3 separate regions of the Homo sapiens genome follow, and regions 1 and 3 are each linked to region 2. The links come from fine-mapping of genetic effects on gene expression. A gene starts in region 2. Each other region holds a variant in brackets. All regions are shown on one strand. Distances are from middle to middle.

The links. PIP is the estimated chance that this variant, and not a neighbour inherited with it, causes the effect.
Region 1: its variant is fine-mapped to the expression of EFR3A in whole blood (INTERVAL, PIP above 0.99).
Region 3: its variant is fine-mapped to the expression of EFR3A in whole blood (TOPMed, PIP 0.96).

Annotation. Positions count from the first base shown.
Region 1 is chr8:132,003,045-132,008,044 of GRCh38, reverse strand. It overlaps EFR3A (EFR3 homolog A), which reads right to left. Exons shown (of 23, transcript NM_015137.6): 22 at 4,760-4,809. Among named protein-coding and RNA genes, the nearest start is that of OC90, 54 kb to the left of the region's middle. The variant C/T (reference allele first, on the strand shown) is at 2,177.
Region 2 is chr8:131,896,487-131,906,699 of GRCh38, reverse strand. EFR3A (EFR3 homolog A) reads right to left here and starts at 2,607. Exons shown (of 23, transcript NM_015137.6): 1 at 2,378-2,607. The coding sequence starts at 2,387. RefSeq lists an enhancer at 1,611-1,660 and a silencer at 2,231-2,710.
Region 3 is chr8:131,993,826-131,998,825 of GRCh38, reverse strand. It overlaps EFR3A (EFR3 homolog A), which reads right to left. Exons shown (of 23, transcript NM_015137.6): 19 at 2,329-2,420. Among named protein-coding and RNA genes, the nearest start is that of OC90, 63 kb to the left of the region's middle. The variant G/A (reference allele first, on the strand shown) is at 2,343.

The DNA of each region.
Region 1 (5,000 bases), 100 kb before region 2:
TTTTGCTCATTTTAAGACTGAGAGGACTCTTTCCTATGTTTTCTTTTAGAAATTTTGATTTTAGCTTTTACATAGACATTGATTACCCAACTTAATAATTAATGTTTGTGTTTGGTGGAAGGTAGGGATTGAGATTAGTATTTTTCTTTTAGCTTATCTAGTTGTTCCAGGACATTTGTTGAAAATATTTTCTTTTCCTCATTAAATTGTTTTGATTCCTTTATCAAAAATCACTTAAGTTTTTGATAGGACTCTCCATTCTGTTATCTTGATCTCTTTGTGTACTCTTATACCAATAATGTCTTGACTACTCTGGCTTTATAAATCAAGTATTGAAATTAGGCAGTGTAAATTCTTCAACTTTATTTTTCCTTTTCAAAACTGTTTAGCTACTCCAGGTCCTTTGTACTTTCATCTGAATTTTAAAATCAATTTATACGTTTTTACAAAAAAGTCTGTTGGGGTTTTGATTGGGATTTTATTGAAGCTACAGATCAACTTGAAAGAAACAGCATATAAACAATATTTAATCCTTCAGTCCATGAACATGGTATATCTCTCCTTTGTTTAGGTGTTAATTTCTCTCATTCATGTTTTATATTCATAACAGAAATCTTACATACTGTTAAATTATGGCTAATTTTTTTAATGCTATGTTTAAAAATTTACTCTTGCAATTGTTTGTTGTTAATATATAGATATACAACTGAATTTTGAATACTGACCTTGAATACCCTGAATCCTGTGACCTTACTAAAATTCATTTAATTCATGTATTAACTCTAGTAGGGTTTTTTTTCTTGATTACTTACGATTTTCCACATACACAACCATGTCATCTGTGAAAAGATAGTTTTATTTCTTCCTTTCTCATCTTTATATTTTTCCTTTTTTCACTTTACTTACCTAAGACTTTCAATACAATGTTGACATGGTGAGAGTAGACATCCTTGACCCAGTTTTAGGTGAAAGGCATCAGACTTTCACCATTATACATAACATCAGCAATAGATTTTTTTATAATTACTCTTTATCAGATTAAGTTCCCTTCTATTCCAAATTTTCTGATAATTTTTGTCTTAAATGAACATTGAGCTTTTTCAAATGCTTTTTTTCCTACTGGTGTGATCATGCAACTTTGCTTTCTTACTATGTTAATGTGGTGAATTTTGCTGACTGATCAATTTTCTAATGTAAAACTGATCTTGCTTTCCTCATAGTAACCCCATTTATTTAGGCCATATCATCAGTTTTATACATTTGCTAACATTTTGATAAAGATTTCTGTGACTATATTCAGGAGGGGTACTTGTCTATAATTTCATTTTTCTTAAAATATCCTTGTCTCATTTAAGTGTTGAAGTTATACTGGCCTCATGAGTTAGAAAATGTTTCTACCTCCTTTGTTTCCTGAATATGTATGAAACTGGTATTATTTCTTACCTAAATGTATGATAAAAGTAAGCAGTGAAGTTAAATGCATTTTCTTGTAGGATGCTTTTAAACTGCAAATCTATTTCAACAGTTATAGGGTTATTTGGATGTTTTACTACTTTTTGTGTCAATTTTAGTTAGTTTTGACTTTCAATAATTTTTGCTCATTTCATCTAAAGTGTTGAATTTATTGTCATAAAATTGTGTATAACATTCCTTTATTATCTATAATTCTTTTTTATTTGTAATATTGGTAATCTGTGTTTTCTCTCTTTTTCTTCCTTAACACTGACCAGAGGTTTACCAATTTTATCAACCATTTCAAAGAACAAACTTTTAGGTTTGTTAATATTTTCTATTGTTTGCCTATTTTCTGTTTCATTGACTTCTGATATACTTAGTTTAGCTTATGTTGTTCTTCTTTCTCTAATGTCTCACCAAAAGTCATTAATTCACTGCTTTCAGATCTCTCTTCTTTGCAAGCAAAAGCATCTAAAGATATAAAATTGCTCCTGAGCACGATTTTAGTTTCATCTTACAAAACTTTGATAGGTATTTTCAGTTTAAAATGTTTTCTAATTCGTCCTGTCATTTCTTCTTTGAGGTATGGGTGTCTTTTAATTTCCAGATATTTGAAATTTTTCTAGATATGTGTTAATGCATTATACTTTTTTTTGTGGCAAGAGAACATACTCAATATGATGTCTTAACATGTCAGTTTCCTGACATTTACTTACACTTG[C/T]TATAGTCCCACATCTGTCTATTTTGTGAATGTTGTATGTGCACTTCAAAAGAATCTATATTCTGTATTTGCCTAGCATTGTGTTTTCTAAAGGCCACTTAAATTGACTGAAATGGTTCAAATCTTATATCCTTTCTGCATTTTTGTCTTCTTGTTAGTTATGTTTTAGTACTCTTATGAGAGGAACATTAAAATTTGCAATTATAATGCAAAGAAACAGGAGACGATCGTGAGAATAAGCAATGTCACACACATTTCTCTCCAAACTATATGTATCTTGTCCTTTAAATTCTTTGACGTGTGTGTGTGGGGCCTGGGTGGGGGGTGTGGGTGTGTGGTGTTCTAAGGGCCTTTTCTACTAATTCCAATAACTGGGTTATCTGTGAGGCTGCTTATTCTCACTGTATTTTACTGCTTCTTTGCCTTTCTTGTTTTTTTTTTTAACCATACTCAGGTATGGTTAAAATGTAAATGAAAGAACAGTGGGAGCGAAGTATAATATTGTGTTGTTCTGTTTCTTTTATGGAGGATACAAACTCTTTCCACTGTCTGATGGTTAGGGTGAGGCAAATTAACAAGAGAAAATGTACCAGACAGGACCTGAAAACTCTGAAGACACATTTCTATAAAGTCTATTTAGTTTCTCCATAAGCTATTCCAGAGCTACTGCTTCCTAAATAGGTGACCCTGTATAAGTTACCTAACTTCCATGTATGTCTGTTTACAAACATGTAAAATGAGAATAATCACTATCTGTTTGTTAGAGTCTGTTGCAGATATTAAATAAAATAATACATTTAGCACAGTGCTTAGAACAACATAGGTGTTTAAAAATGTTAATTATTAGTAGTAACTGTTCAATGAATGTAAGTATTAGTAGTAGTTGTGGTACCAATGAAACAGAATTAGTTATAATACTTATTCTAAAATATTAAATTCATATAGTTATGTTAGTTTGACTAAATGTGATATGGTGATCTCTAGCAACATTCCTTTTAAGAACATCAGTTATGGATTTGAATTTTGACTTTGCCACTCATTAGCTGTATGCCCTTCAGCAAATTATTTTACTTTTCTCTAAGCCTTGGTGTCTTCACCTGAAAAATCAAAAAAATAGTGTCTACCTACCTTTCAGGGCTATGGTGAGGATTAGCAGAAATAATAGATATAAACCATGTAGCATAAGATCAAGTACACAGTAGACATTTACTATTAAATGTTTGACATTTAGTCATCAAAGAAGTAAATGCCCACACCCAGCAATTTTAATTGAATCCTAAGTCTAGCACAACAGTCGCCGACCTTTTTGGCACCAGGGACCAGTTTTGTGGAAGACAGTTTTTCCAAGGATGGGGACTGGGGGGATGATTTCAGGATGAAATTGATCCACCTCAGATCATCAGGCATTAGATTCCCATAAGGCGCATGCAACCTAGATCCCTTGCATGAGCAGTTCACAATAGGGTTCCTGCTCCTATGAGAATCTAATGCCGCGCTGATCTGACAGGAAGCGGAGCTCAGACAATAATGTTCACTTGCCCACTGCTCACCTCCTGCTGTGGAGCCTGGTTCCTAATAGGCCATGGGCCAGTACAGGTCTCTGGACTGAGGGTTGGGGACCCCTTGTCTAGCACATATTGAATATTTTAGTCTGATTTTCTGTTCTTAAATTTTGTAAATGAGTGATTCTCAACTTAAGAGAGTATAGCAGGAATGGGAGGGAAATGTCTAGAGTAAGATATATAATGACAAAAATGTGCCTTGCTTATGAAAGCAGAAAAAAGACTGAAACAAAAAAGCAAGTGGCCTAGAGCATTTACCTGTCTCTAATATTAATATAATACAGGGTTGAAGAAAAACAGACTTAATTAATCAAGTTAAAAATATGAAAGATATGCCAGATATAGAAAAAATTTCCAGAAGCATAGACATCTCTACTGGCCACCTCTCACAAAGGCAGGTTTCCACACTGAAGTCAATGTAAGACTATGTGGAAGTTCCTTCTTTAGATGGAACCTAGAGTTTGCCTCTCCTTCCTTCAGGTGCTACATTTCTTATTAATGTATAGACATAGGATAATCAAAGAGCATAATAATTCACAACAGAACTCAAATGAATATGATGTACAAAAACTAAAGGAAAGTTCAATAATTCAAATGAGCTATCTGCATAAGTAGACTTATTACTGCCCTGAAAAGAACCATGAGGCTGACATATTAAAATGCAGTTTCTGCAGGACAAAACGATTCAATATGAGCAATTTCCTAATTAAGCATAATATTAGAATATGGGTCTTTTTTAAATTACCCAGATGTACTTAAGAGATCATCAGGAAGGAATGAATAATCTAAAAAAGAAGCTAAAAAGCTAGAGGACAACTAGTCAAGAAAGGGTATCAGACTCTGCCTAAAAAACAGAATCACTATTAAGCAAAGGATCACCTATATGATCTTATGTTAATCCTAAATGAAAAGCATTACTTTAACATGATAACTTAAACATAATGAACCACAAATTCATAGGGGTCTGTCAGTTTCTATTCGTGTGTGTGTGTTATTGCTATTGTGATAACAAAACCCTTACCGTATGGTGAGTTCCAATATTTGGGCAAGTCTATCATGAAGCAAATTTGCCTGCAAAAAAGAAAAAAATGTTAAGAATGGTTTATTTTCTAGGTATCTATATATAATAATATCAATGTAACTTAAGAGACAAAGTATAATTGTGACTATTAAGCTGATTAATTATTAAGTACACAATGCTTTAAAGTTTTGGTTTGATCTGTCTTATCTATTAGAATTTAATGTAAGGGTTGTCTTTTTTT
Region 2 (10,213 bases):
GTGGTTGCTTTCTCAAAGAGTCTACGGATCTCCAAAATAATTCTAGTGAAGTGGCTGTTAATATTCATGAGATATATCATTGCTTAACCAGTGGGGTTACTGCATGCTTCACTGGATTCTAGTTATTAACAACAGTTTCAATGAGTACCAATATTCCAAATAAGCAACAAAATAGCAAGAGTAGAATAATTCTATGACTTACAGCAAGGGTTGCTCTCGGAATTGTAGAGTCTGAGAGACCACAGTGATCACCTCCAACCCTTTGATTTTAATTAAAACTCGTACGGATTAACTGGCTTGGGCTTATCACTAAGCCTCTCAACCATTTAACATTAAAACAACCAATCAAACAAAAACACTTAGCTTATCTGAGCACAGTTTTCCTCCTAAGAGCTGTGAACTTCCTCCTAAATTCCTACAGAGAATAACAATTTTGCCATCTCTGTGTTGGATATATATTCTACAAACAGAATTTCAAAGAAATATTGTTGTCCACTGCACTATCCCAGCAATTTCGGCAGCTGTGACTGCCAAAGGAGAGAAAAGGCAAATATGAACACTATTCACCTCACACTGGTACCCCCAATCAATCCACAGCACATTTTTATTCAGTCATAAAAAATGTACCATGACAAATATTAACAATGACAGATAAAACAAACATTTCACTTGTCTTCCAGTCAGGGTGTGAAATCTGCATTCTTAACTATGTAAACTCCACCATGGCCCATCCTAAAATCATTTTGCAGAATGAACTCAACATTTGAAAAGAAACGAGTTTACTATATCCACTCTGTGAAGCTAGATAACCCTAGAACATAACTAAAAATTTTATTTCACAGGATAATTCTGGCATGTTACCAATAAATTCTACTTGAAGCCTCAACTTTCAATAGGTGCTTACCTCCTCCCCTTTGGTTTCTCAGAAAATAAAAGATTAGCATAGTGCTAGTCTCAGATATTCACTGAATAACGTGAACATGAATTTAGAAGTACTAAACTGGCAATAACAATGAAGATGATTGTAAATGATATTCCTCCAGCCAAAAGGAATAAAACAGAAATTTAAACTGGACATATTTACTGGATGCGAAGTCCAAGAACGTGAGTTAAGGACACACAGTAGTGTGTGAAGAAAACAAAATCCACAGTACCCACACATGTATGAGGAGTTAAAAGTAATCTCTACATCAGGACTATGTAAAGATTTGCCACAGGAAAATCTTTAAATCTCAAAAAGATATTTAAATATCTTTAATATCAATTTAAATTTAATATCCTTAAATATCAGGAAAATATCAATCTTTATAATATCAAGAAATAACTCATCTTTTCCCACCACTAGACGAAACGTGCATTGGAGACTGACCTGGAAATTCAGCGTCCCAGATGGCTACAAAACAAGGACAACTAGAAGTAGTTATGAATTCTAGGAAATATATTCACAAGTGTGTAAAGATTCTATAGTATTGAACACTTAGTCAAAGGAGTCCTACTTGAATTCTCAAATCAATGACAAAGTTGCTTCCTCTCTACCCAAGATCAGGAGCTTCCCTAGTTTGCACATATCCACATTGACCAGTGGCTATAAAGTCACACTGCGATTATCTGGGTCATTTTAAAATAGGTCATTAGCAGTACTTGTAGTATCGCGTCTGTCTAAAAATCCTCCAACACCGAGTGACTTTTAAACTTTGGGGTGCCTTGGTAACCCCAGGGACGCTTATTAGACATGCAGACTCCGGGGCCCAAGCTCCAGACTAATTCCATGGGAATAGGGCGGGTCCCGAAACCGGCATTTTTAATCATCTGCCCGGGTGAATCCGAAGTGTGGTCCAAAAGCCACAGTCGAGGTGCCTCTGCCTAACAAGCTCCACAGAAAGCTCCGACTTCAGCCGCCCCGACGGCGATACGGACGCCGAGTTAGGCTGTCGGGGGTCTGTCTGGCGGCCGCGGGAAGGGACTCGGGGCCGGCGCGTCCACTAGCGACGTCCGGCCCGAGGTGAGAAGGGACTGACAATGGTACCGCAGTTATTTTCAATATTTCCATAAAGTCCCACGAAGCCGTGTGGCCGTGGGAAAAGGGCTTTAACTTTGAAATCCCACGGGTCAGGTTACCACCAGCTCTGCCGCCTCCTAACAGCGCGTCCCCGCAGTTCCCTTAACGTTCGGGCCTCAGTTTCCCGATCCGTGCAACGGGCTCACGCCATCTCCGGAAGGCTAAGCCGAAACGAAACTAACTCCGCCGCTCGCAGACACTTCCTGGCTCTGCTCAGCGCGGCCCAGCCTCCCCAGCCGCCCGGGAGGAGTACCCGGCCCAAGCGCGTCGCGCAGGCAGTCGCCTCCCAACGCCCCCGGCCCTCGGCCGGCCACTCACGGGTAGGCATGGCGATCTCGACCGCGCTCGCCGCCGCACCGAGGCTCAGCGGGGCCGCGCAGGGAGCGCCGACGGCACCATGACGGCCGTTGCTGGGCCGCGGAGGCCGGAACGAGGCGAAGGGCGAAGGGCGAAGGGTGGAGGGAGCGGACGCGGACCCCGCGGTCACGCAACCAAGCGGGCGACAGCTACCGCCGCCAGCCCACTCCTCGCCGGGCGGCGCGACGGACGACCCACGCCCGTTACGTCAGCGCGCCGCCGCCGTCCCGGCCCCGCCCCCGCGGATGGCCGGGCTCGGCCCAGGATCCCTTGTCGAGCGGGTGGAATGGGTGGCTGGGGACAGCCACGTAGAACAACTTCGGGTGCCTTCTATTTTCCAAGCCTGGTGACCTGCGTGGCATTCGTTTTCCTTGATCTCTATTTGGAGTGCATCACTTTACGTTTGTGAGGATGATGGCTTTGAGCGCACGGAGTACCTGTGGGCTTTTTCTTTTGCAATCGGTTTAACTTGCAGTGCGTTTTGCATACTCTGAAAGCATGGTTTATTTGAGATGCACTAAGGTCATTTGGGGTGATGGCTGCTCATTTTTTGAGAGGGCAGAAAATGTAATTTCCTTTTGCTCTTGTGACTTTCAGAGCGACCTTATCCCTCAGGAGTTAGTCTCCTCTGGAGAGGGCAGCTCTGTGCACTTGGCTGAGCTACTCTTCTTGACTCTGGGTGTCATTAATAATTGAGGTATCTAATAGTCACCAAGCTGAGCAGACACCGGGAGCCAGAGAGCTGAGCAACGCACCTACACTATGCTAGGCGCCGTGGGCTGCGGACAGCCCATATGGAGATATAAAAGCCAACCGCAGAGGTTTAACACAGCCTTCCTCAAAGTGGGTCAAAGTGGTCCAGGATCCTTTTGTGCTTGGATCCCCTGGGGACTTGTTGAAAAGCAGATTCCTAGGTGCTGAGCCAAATCTACGAACACATATACAGATGATTTAAATACAATGATAATACTGAGAACCTTTGTCCTAAAAAGTAGGGCTAACCTTCTGATTAAGAAATGATATTGTGCAGTACTGGGAGGAGAAGATGAAGAACATGAAGATCAGAGCTAGGAAGCGCTGAGGAGAAATTAGTCTTGGCTTGAGGTGGACTTGGAAGAAAGCAGAATTTGAATTAGCAAAGCCTAGGGGAGTCCTAAAAGAGGCTGGGGAGAGGATGAAGGGTAATTTAGAGTGAGTCATGGCAGCTGGGGAGAGGAGAGTGTGTACTGTACCTATAAAAGAGACTGTCCAGCTGGGAACGGTGGCTCACGCCTGTAATCCTAACACTTTGGGAGACCGAGGTGGGCGGTGGGCAGATCACCTGAGGTCAGGAGTTCGAGATCAGCCTGGCCAACATGGCGAAACCCTGTCTGTACTGAAAATGCAAAAATTAGGCGGGGGTGGTGGCACATGCCTATATTCTCACTCAGCTACTTGGGAAGCTGAGGAAGGAGAATCGCTTGAACCCAGGAGACGGAGTTTGCAGTGAGCCGAGATCGGGCCACTGGACTCTAGCCTGGGCTACAGAGCAAGACTCCATCTCAAAAAAAAAAAAAAAAAAAGAGAGACTGTCCCTTGCTAACAGTAAAGACCAAACTACCTAGTGCTTATTCATGTTTTAATGCCCTGTTGCATATTTTATCACCTATAAAATCTTTCATGCTTCCAGTTTTCTCCCTAAGACTTTGGCATTATCTTGATTCCTCTCTGCTACAGCACTTTTCTCACTGCATCCTAAATAAACTGTCATGAGTGCTTGTGTTTTACCATGGGCCTATTTGCTTTTCAGAAAATGGCAAAAGCCATATTCTGTTCATGTTTATGTATCCTTGGCTGGCACACAGGTGGGGGCCAGAGTATATTAATTCAATATATAAATAAAGGATTTTATTCAAGAGTATGAAAACAAAAACAGGTAAATAAAACTGATAAACAACTTTACATTCAACCTTGGAATTTGTCTTTTAAGAAACTGTTCTGTGATTTTTACAAAAAGCATAACAGTAACATTAAATTATCAGAAGCAGGGCCTTGCAGGGGGAATGGTGTGGCAGAGAAACTGTGGAGGTAGGCAGCCAAATCGGAAGGCCCCAATACAGGAGAGAGTGTTAGGTGCTCAGTCTTGGTGGTGGCTGTGGAAAAAGAAAGAACTGAATCTTACTTTGGAAAAGAATCCCTGGATTTGTTGGCTGCTGACTTGGGAGCAATAGAGAGGCATCTGTTAGTTATGTAACTCCAAGGTTGGAACAAGGAAAGTGGTGGTGCTGGAGAGCAGTAGACCAGTCAGGAAGAAATGCTGTTTTAGGGAAGGGGTGTGAAGAAAGGTGTGAGTTTCTCCTTGACATATTGAGCTTGAGGTGGTATCAGAGGGAGACATCCGAGTGAATGAATCTGAAGGCAGCTGGGCAAGCCAGGATGAAGGTGGGCTGAGGGACCTCAGGGTGGGAGATTTGGAAATCTTTGGTCCCGGGACAGGAGCTGAAGCTGGGTGTCAAAGAGAGCCCTTTTAGGGAAGATGTGGAGGCAGTGAAGGCACAGAGAGACGAGATCCACAGGATACAGTGCCCCAGGAGCCAAGGGAAGACATGACTCCAAAAGGCAGACATCTCTGCTTACATTACCTTGAAAAAGATGCAGATCCCAAAGGCCCTGAAATTGTCCTGCACATACTGGTTGTTTTTTTGTTTGTTTGTTTTTCATTTCTTTCTGTTTTTAATCCTCTTGGTCTTTTGGTTTTGTATTGTTGCCAGAAATAAAAATCAGCAGCCAAAGATTCTGAGGAAGGACAGCTGAATGTCAGGAAAAATAGTGTCATAATGTTTTGATTATATATACAGTACCTACGTGGTTTTTTTTTTTTCCCTAGTTTGTGCACATTGGTAGCAATGTTACCATACTCTTTCCCTAACCTATCCTCTGGATCCGAGTTCTGCCGGTGTATCCACCACAGCCAGCCCCCGCTTCCTTTTTGATTTTTTTTTTTTTTTTTGAGACAGAGTTTCACTCTGTCGCCTAGGCTGGAGTGCAGTGGTGCAATCTCACCTCACTGCAGCCTCCACCTCCTGGGTTCAAACAATTCTCCTAACTCAGCCTCCCAAGTAACTGGAACTACAGGTGCATGCCACCACGCCTGGCTAATTTTTGTAATTTTAGTAGAGACGGGGTTTTGTCATGTTGGCCAGGCTGGTCTCAAACTCCCAGCCTCAAGTGATCTGCCTGTCTCGGCCTCTCAAAGTGCTGGGATGACAGGTGTGAGCCACCACGCCCGGCCCCCTACCCCCTACTTCTGAGAGCAGAGAGTCTGCCGTCATCTTTGGTACTTGGTCTTACCCCTCTTGGTGTATCCCCTTTTGCAAACACCCTTCCCCTTTCTATCCCCTCTGTGTCAGTGCTCCTCTCTTGGAGCCCAGTCTGGGCTGACAGGAACGAGGATTTAGCCATCTCTCTTGGTGCCCACACTGCCCAGCTCTTGTCCTGGACACTATGTGTGGTAGACATGGAGACGAGTCACCAGATCCCTTTAAGAGAAGACACACTGCCTTGGCATTTGAGCCACTTTAGTGTTTGAGCTTGGTATTTGAGGTGATGCTTTTGTCAGGGTGCAGGGCAGGCAGAGTGCCCTTTCTAACATGCAAATCTAATGATACCTCTGATATGGTTTGGATATTTGTTCCCTCCAAATCTCATATTGAAATTTGATCCCCCACATTGGAGGTGGGGCCTAGGTGGAAGGTGTTTGGGTGATGGGGGTGGATCCCTTATGAACAATTTGGTGCCTTCCTTAAGGTAATGAATAAGTTCTCTGTTGGTTCCTGCAGTATCTGATTGCTAAAAATTGTCTGGCACCTCCTTTCCCTCTCTCATGCCATGTGATGCCTCCTCCCTTCCCCTTCCACCATGAGTAGAAACTCCCTGAAACCCTCACCAGAAGCAGACACTGGCACCATGCTTCTTATACAGTCTGCAGAACTGTGGGCCAAATAAAGTTCTTTTCTTTATAAATTACCCAGCCTCAGGTATTCCTTTATAGGAATGGAAATGGACTATGACCTCTCACCTGCTAACACTTGTCTATGGCTCAGTAGAGTGTTCAGTCTACAGTTCAAAGCCCTTAGCTTAGCACAGGAAGCCTTTCAAGGCCTGACATTGAGAGCTCTTCAGTTCCCCTACATTGCAACTTACGCTTTGCTTCCCCTGGTCCTAATGAGTGCACAGTTCTCAGAAACCACTCTGCTGTAGCACTCTTCCATTCTTTTGCCCATGCTCTTTGCCCTGCTGGAATGGGCTTTTCTGTCCCCTGCTCTAGCTAACTTCCAAAGTCCTTGTGAGTGTTTGGTGTAATTAAGTATGCCCTATGACCTGGAGATCATCCTTCTGGGAATATATCCTGGAAAATTTCTCACCAGGGTCCACAAGGAAGATGGATAAAAAGGTTAATTGACGTGTTGTTCATGGCAATGCGGAGTTGGAGGCCACCTAGGCGTTTGTCACTTGCAGAACATGGTGGATTCATACGTACTGTGGATGCACATCAGCAACATGGCTTGATCTTAAAAATGCAGAATTGGCCAGGCTCAGTGGCTCACGCCTGTAATCCCAGCACTTTGGGAAGCCAAGGCGGGTGGATCACTGGAGCTCAGGAGTTCGAAACCAGCCTGGCCAACATGGTGAAACTCCGTCTCTACTAAAATAACAAAAATTAGCCAGACATGGTGGTGGATACCTGTAATCCCGGCTACTTGGGAGGCTGAGGCAGGAGAATCGCTTGAACCCAGGAGGCAGAAGTTGCAGTGAGCCAAGACCGTGCCACTGCACTCCAGCCTGGGCAACAAGAGTAAAACTCCGTCTCGAAAAAAAAAAAAATGCAGAATTAAGAAGCATCAATATTTATAGCACAGTACTATTTATGTCATTTTTTAAAAAACATGCACGTAGAAAACATGGATCTCAACAATGATATATAAGGAGGTGAAGGGAAAGGGAGTGAGAATAGGGAAATAAAATTAGCAAAAAAAGGGCTTTGAACAGAAAGACGACAGTGTACAATGAAAAAGGAATGTGATTGCTGCAGTCTTTGCAACTGATTTTTTTAAAAAAGAAACAAATTATTTTCAAATATCACTAAGTACAAAAAGACCTTCCAAGACTTCTAAGTTGGCTTTAAGGTGTTTCTTTCAAGTTCCAGAGCTAATTTGCATACCTCCATCCTGTCTCTGAAGGGCCCTAGTGCTTCTTGCGGTACATAGCAGATATTGGGGACTCCCAGTAACTGTGGTGGATCCTAAGGAGGGCTGCTGAGGCCTGCATGTGCAGGTGGGATAAAGAACCAAGGTAATGTGGGCATTAACTTGTCCTTATTTATACATATAGGCTGGTCAGGACTGGGACATTTGTTACCTCATTACCTATATATTAATCATTACTAATAGTACCTGTTTATTTTGTTTAAACTCTTCAAAAGCCAATGTTGAGTTCAAATCAAGAAAGACATTCACTAGCACTTAAATAGAAGAGTACTTTCTTTTTTATGTTTTCTGGCACATTTTCAGAATACATGCCATTAAAAATAGAAGTTCTTTGTCCCTTCTTTTATTCCTTCTCAGAAAATAAGAGGTCAAAATAATATTAGAAAGGTCGTTGTTGATATCCTATTAGAGCATTGGCTTTTAGCTCAAATTGTCCAAAATAGCTCTGTTTCCAGTTTAGTGTAGTATTTGTTCCAATTTCTAAATCCTGCACTGAGAGAATTCACTTTTAATTAGCATGCATTTTAGTGCTTCAAAGGTAATTGCCAGCAAATTTACAGTTTATAGGAAATAATTAATAAGGCTATAGATTCACTCCTCCTAAAAGCTTATTCCAAAAAAGTCATAATGATGCAATCTGATGCTCTCATTGCTTAGTTTTTTTCTCACAATACATATCAATAATATGCCCTTTTTTTCATTTCATTCCATTTCATTTTACCATTGATTAATCATAACTTAAGGCTTTCCAGTTCTTATGAGGCATAAAAAACACAGACTTTAGACACAGAAAACCTGAGTTTGGATTCTGCTTTCCCCACAAAGGAATTGGAAACACTTATGAAAACATACAAAAAAGATAAGTCTTGCTAAAGTAAATTAAGATGCAGACCAGGTCTAAAGAACCCCTGAGCAGATAAAACCAGTTAGGCCTTGTGAGTGAACTAAGCCTTGCTTGATTTGCAAATGTAAGTAAAACTTAACTTGAGCTATTTCTTGTAAATGCTGAAATTCAAGAAAAAACAGAACTTAAGCTCAACCAATCAGAAGTTATCAACAAATTTATATAACTAGGGACTTTCTAACAGAATAAACCAAGTATGGGGACTGTATAATTATAATCAATCAAATATTTTATTTGCTTTACTTCTATGTCCATCCTATAGAAACCTTCCCCTGGTGTTCCCTCCGAAGATTCATGCATCGCTATTTGTGCAAATAAACTCTTTAAAATTTTATTATGCCTCAGTTTACATTTTCTTCTTCTTCTTTTTTTTTTTTTGAGATGGAGTTTCGCTCTTGTTGCCCAGGCTGGAGTACAATGGCATGATCTGGGCTCACTGCAACCTCTCCCGGGTCTAAGCAATTATCCTGCCTCAGCCTCCCAATTAGCTGGGATTACAGGCATGTGCCACCACACCCAGCTAATCTTGTATTTTTAGTAGAGACCGGGTTTCAGCATGTTGGTCAGTCTGGTTTCGAACTCCTGACCTCAGGTGATCTGCCCGCCTCGGCCTCCCAAAGTACTAGGATTACAGGCATGAGCCACCACACCCAGCCAGCTTACCCTTTAACAGCCTCTAATCCAGAAGGTCATTGCCCAAACTTTTCGGTGCCAACTAGGACACTGTGCAAGGCAGACACTCCCGATCATGTCATGAGCCAAATGTCTCAGTCATCTCTGCTTTATAAAGAGAATTGCAAATGGGTGGAGCAAAATCTTGAGATAATCAGGTTAAGAGTTCTTGATTAAATCAGACAAAACAGCTGGAAACCCTTCCTTAGAAACACTATCATTTTAAACAATTAGAGGAAAGCATTAACTCTCATTGTTATTTACTAAAATGTTAGCTAGCTTTAGCATTTAACACAGAGTGTAGGGGAGCTGCTGAAAGGAGAGAAAAAAATCTTCTAAATATGGTCTCATGCTAGGCAGTGAGTTTTTTACAAGACTTTTATGACAATTGGTATCAAATCTTATTTATTGCTGTATCTCCTGCACATGAAATATTTTATTTAATAAATATTTGAGGAAGTGTGGGAATTGGAGGAAGAGAGGGAGGGAGGAAGGGGAAAAACATAAAGGGCAAGCATCACAGAGAGGTCAGTTGAAGTATTGAAAGGAGATCTTTGTGGTAGATTAGAAAAATCGCTTAGATTTTTTTTACCTCTGGCTATATCTACACTCTTGCAGTTGATTTGGGGATACCTCCCCCGAAGAGATAATTTTTTCCTCATCTCTGAGTCTGCATTGTCCTTGTAACTTGCTTTGACCAAAGAGGCAGTGACAAACATTATGTGAGCAGAGACTTAAAAAGGGTGAAGAAGCCCAAACTTTCTATTTGAAGAGAGAGGCGCCAATCCTCCTAATCATCCCAGATGAGGCCACCATATATCAGTCAGCCCCTGCTGGTCACCCAGCTAAACAAGAATTCAAAAGTCAGCCTAGCCAAAAGCCACATAAGCACCACCCAGCTGAGACCAGCCCAAATTGTCAACACACAGGAGCACGAGCTGAAGAAATAGCTGTTACTTTAAGCCACTAAGTTTG
Region 3 (5,000 bases), 95 kb before region 2:
AAAGTCAACCACCAATTTATACTCTCTAAAAATACCTTTTACCTTGAGTCTCTCAAATCTCCCTCTTGCTTTGAGATATGTAAAAGGTATAAAATCAACTGCTTTATGATAAAAATATCAATAATACATTTTATGGCATCAGCACATTTTTAGAAGAAATAATGCATTATTTAGAAGAAATAATAATATACATCTTTTTATATATGGCAACTTTTAGAAAAAGTTCACCAAATGATTCTCAGTAGGCCAAGGTTGGAATTGCAAATGTCAGAACTGGCAGATCTCAAGTGGATCAGGTATTTCAATAGACTAGAGTAACAATTTGAGTTTAGGGAAACAGAAGTTTGTTATGGTCTCCATCTAAACAACCTTCTGACTCTCTCTCTTTTTTTTTAAATTATAAGTTTAAAAAGCAAAAGCAAATACATCTCAGGATAAACTAGGATTATACATATAAAACTATAAATAATTTTGATCAAACAAAAAAGTTATTTTTTATGAGCAATGTTCTTATCTGATTCATTTTAAGAAAATAGTTTGATATTCTGCTGCACCATTAACTGGTAAAATATCTATCTGATGTGAATTTCTCCTGTCCATTATATGAAAGTAATTAATTAGTTTTAGCCTAGAAGATAGTATTATTCTGTCTTCTGGTATTTGAACAAACATCTCTAATATCCAAAAGCAGATTCCACAATGGTAAATGAATCTGAAACTCAAATGTGCTCAAGCAAATGTGACACTAAACTGTACTTAACTTTTCAGATGCTTGGTGTGAGGCATATTTGACTTAGGACTTATAGTAAATGAAAAACAACAGGATCTTGTAAAAGTTAATAAAAATATTAACAGACTTTTAATGTAAGATTTGTGTCAAGAATCTTTCCCCTACATTGAGTCTTTATGCAAATGTTTTTTCAGTTGATTTTATCAAAATAGACTGACTCTTTCCAACAGTTTCAAGTGTTCTCTATATATTTTTGAAAGAAGTAAGAATAGTTAACAAAAGGAGAAAGGTGAAAATACCAGTCAATAACACATAGTGTCCCCTTAACAAAATTAAGTTTATAATCTAAGACTCTGGATGAATTTCTTCCCTAGAAAGGTAATAGTGGCAAATTCATAATCATTAAAAGACAGAACTAGCAAGATACTCTTCTTACTGGTAAGGAGTGTATAAATTAAATAGCTCTGAAGAAAGAGGTGAATTTGGGAAAAGTTGTTATTAAGCCTTAAACTGGTAAGAAACTTTAGACTTAATGCGTTGAGTTTCAAAATGAACACTAAGTGCTTCTTCAACTACTCTTGATGCCGTGCTGATAAGTTCTTAATAAAACATAACTTCTATGTAATGGGAAGTTGAATGGCATAGAAAACATAAGTCAGTTGGCTGTACTCTGGCCACCAAATAGGTTTAGTACCTGAAGACAAATAAATCAATAGGAATTGTAAGGGGGTAGGAGGGAGGCTTGAGAAAGCATAATTCAGCTAACTTCCTTTCCCTTTCCCTATATGGATATTCTTTTAATTATGCATATTGTACCAATGAGAAATAATAAAATACTTAGGAAGGCAAACAATGGATAAACCACAAGGTGGAGGTTGACTTGACATGCTGGCATTTTGGCATTTTTACTTGACTATGAAAAAATTCTCTGGTGATTTGTGTAGAATAAGTCCTAGAGAATACTGGCTGCTTTTTCCCCTATAAGTCAGGAGGGTACACTCTTGTGCTTTTTTGAAACGGGAGGAGAGCATGAAATCTATGATGTTTTAAATAAGCCACAGTCCTTACAGAGTACATAGTTCACTGACACAGCTTAAACAACATCCTTACTATCCAAAATAATTAAAACATTTTCCCTTATAGATGCAGTTTTAAAACTTTTCAAAGGTAGTCAGCATTTGGCTTCACATGAGGATGTATAGTTCTATTTATTTCTGTAATTTGCATTTCCTAAATTTTTAAAAATAAGTAGGACCTAGAGGGCCCACTAATTTAATGACAGGCTTTGTATAAAGTTTCTTAGCAAAAAAATCTTATACTTTACAGTTCCTTTTATTACACTAAATTATAATGTGAAATCTGACATCATAACATATAATGTTAGGTTTATATATCTTTACAGACAGCTGAAATGAGTTCAGTAAAATAAATTATAAATAAATTCAAAGCTAAATCAGATTAATTTCTACTAATAATTTAGTTGATTTGAGGATAATTTAGAGTTGTATTTCCTCCTGTTCGAAAGTGTGGAAGGCAAAAAATTCTTTTAAATGATGTCTACCAAGACAGTACTCTACCATAAACTTTCAGTAACTTACCACATCATCAGAAG[G/A]AACATTGTTGGATAAAATATCCACCTGAATGGATACGGTGTCCACAATGCTTTTTCTTCTAGAAAGTCGATCTTCATCTAAAATAAAATTGTTTTCTTCCCATTATTTGCTAGAAATGTTATGTTGGTTTTCATTTATAAACTCTACTTATTTCAGATTTCAAAAACTGTCAAAAAATTCAGACAGTTTGTCTTTTTTGTTCCTTCTAAATACATAAAAGCAGCGTGTTCTCGGACTTTTACATTTCGTGAAGCAGATTAAAAAGTAAAATTGATGAGGTGAACTGAAATAAGGTTATCGGATTTTTATTTTTCAAAAAGGGGCATTTAGGACAGCAACATCAACAACCACTACCAAATAGTTTAATTAAAAAAAGCAAGTCAATGTAACAGCAAATGAAGGAAGTACATAATCTAAACTTAATACATTTAGCCTAAATGAAAACTGACAATATTGCCCTTATATCTCTAATATTTTCACGAAACAGTGAAAGCTGTCAGCTAACTCTGGTTCTAGGATGACAGTTTGGGAAGCAATGTCTAAAGGTGTTTACAGTGCATTACAATTTGTGGGCTGAAAGAATTTGCTGTTTCAATTAATATCTCCTCCAGCATTGTCCATTCAGTCATCTCCATCAGCTGTTGTTATTTTGCTTTATAATTTGACCACTTCTCCAGAAAGATGTTGTCTTTACCTGAGTGCTCTAGCTAATCTACTTTTGTGCCCCCAATTCATTTGTACAGTCTGAACAAATTGCTCTGATTTTTCACTACTGACTATGCTGAAGTCCTGTAATTATAATCCCAACCCCAACCACTCTTCTGACAGCGCTTTTAAATAAAATTCCACGGTCTTCCAAATCACTAAATTCAAAAGCTATTCCTAGCCCATTTTCTGCTTAACCACTTCATGAACATTTGAATTTGTTGATCATAATGTCCTTACATACCTTCTTTTCTACTTCTGTTTTTCTACTTTAGCATTCAATACTCAACAAATCTAGGAAGTGATTAGAGACCCTGTTAGGTGTTAGGGACAGTCTGCTGAATAGACATTACACATCCCGTGCAGCTTACAGTTTAACAGGAAAAATATACAATAAAATCACACAAATTATTAAAGTGTGATGAAAGTACAGGATGGTAGGAAAATATCAAATAATCATGATTACAGTCGAAAAAAGGAAGTCACTTTGTGTATTCTAACATATAGAATTAGAGGCTGATTCAACCCTTGGAAAGCTGAGTGAGTAAAAGTTAGGCTAGCCATCGGATAGTCTCAGTCTGCAGCATGGAGATGGTAATTCTCAAGAAGCTCTGGAAGCTTCTAGTCTGATCTCCACCCATTTGAATGCTACACTGTCTTTCAAAGATAATAGTTTTTCCTCTTCTACTTGCAAATTTTTCTGAGTGCTTTTCATTGTCAGTCTCTGATTCTGAAAAAACATAGTTCCAATTTTTCCTTTATGATACAGAAGAGAATTCAGAAAGGGTGACAATGATGCCAAGCTGGCTACTGTTCTACTCCCAGTCCTAAAAAGAATGTACTCACCCAGGTCACATCCCAGGACTTCTAACTCTCTCAAAGAGTTCCCAGGTACTATTAGGGTTGCAGCTGGCACCTAGTAAGTACTCCATAAATACTTGTGTGACTGAGCAGGATTCCGGCACCTCCTTTTCTGAGTTCAACATTTCCAGTTTCTTATTAATCAATTCTATTTGACATGTTCTAAATCCAATTCCGCATCTCTAAATAAGCCATCTTTATCTCCACATTGTCCTATTTATTTTCAAGAGTGTCATCGTTCAAAATCTTCATCTTTTCTTACCTAAACTCTTAGTATAGCTTTCAAGTGGGTCTTCTAGTATGTTTCTCCCTTCTATACTACCAATAGAGTTTTCTAAAACAGATCATTTTCAGTCCTAATTATAATTGTTAAACAAATGCAGCCCACTGCTTAATGCAGAGTTCCCAAGGTTTTCTACCTCACTGCACACATTAAATTATAATGCATGCATGGTACACAGAGATAAATGGAAGGGCCTGCTCATATTGCAGGCTCAGACTGCCCCAGGCCCTCTCCAGCTACCTGAAGAGCTAAGGAGAACAGTACCCAGACACACCTATAATGTTCCCCCAAAACAGTAGGGAAGCTCAGGTCTAGAATCAGTGTAACAGCAGAGTTACTGTATCATGTGGCAACACTTCATCTTTCTCTCTCTTTTTTTTTTTTCTTCCTGAGACAGTGTCTCTTCTCTGTCACCCTGGCTGGAGTACAGTGGTGTGATCAGAGCTCACTGCAGCCTCAAACTCTTGGGCTCACGTGATTCTCCCATTTTAGCCTCCCGAGTAGTCAGGACTACAGGCATGTGCCACCGTGCCCAGTTAATTTTTTTTAACTTTTAAGTTCAGGGGTACATGCGCAGGTTTGTTATACACATAAATTTGTGTCATGGGGGTTTGTTGTACAGATTATTTCATCACCCACATATTAAGTCTAGTATCCATTAGTTGTTTTCTGGATGCTCTCCTTTCTCCCACCCTCCACCCTCCAACAGGTCCCAGTGTGCATTGTTCCCCTCTATGTGTCTGTGTGTTCTCATCATTCAGCTCCCACTTACAAGTGAGAACATGTGGTATTTGGTTTTCTGTTACTG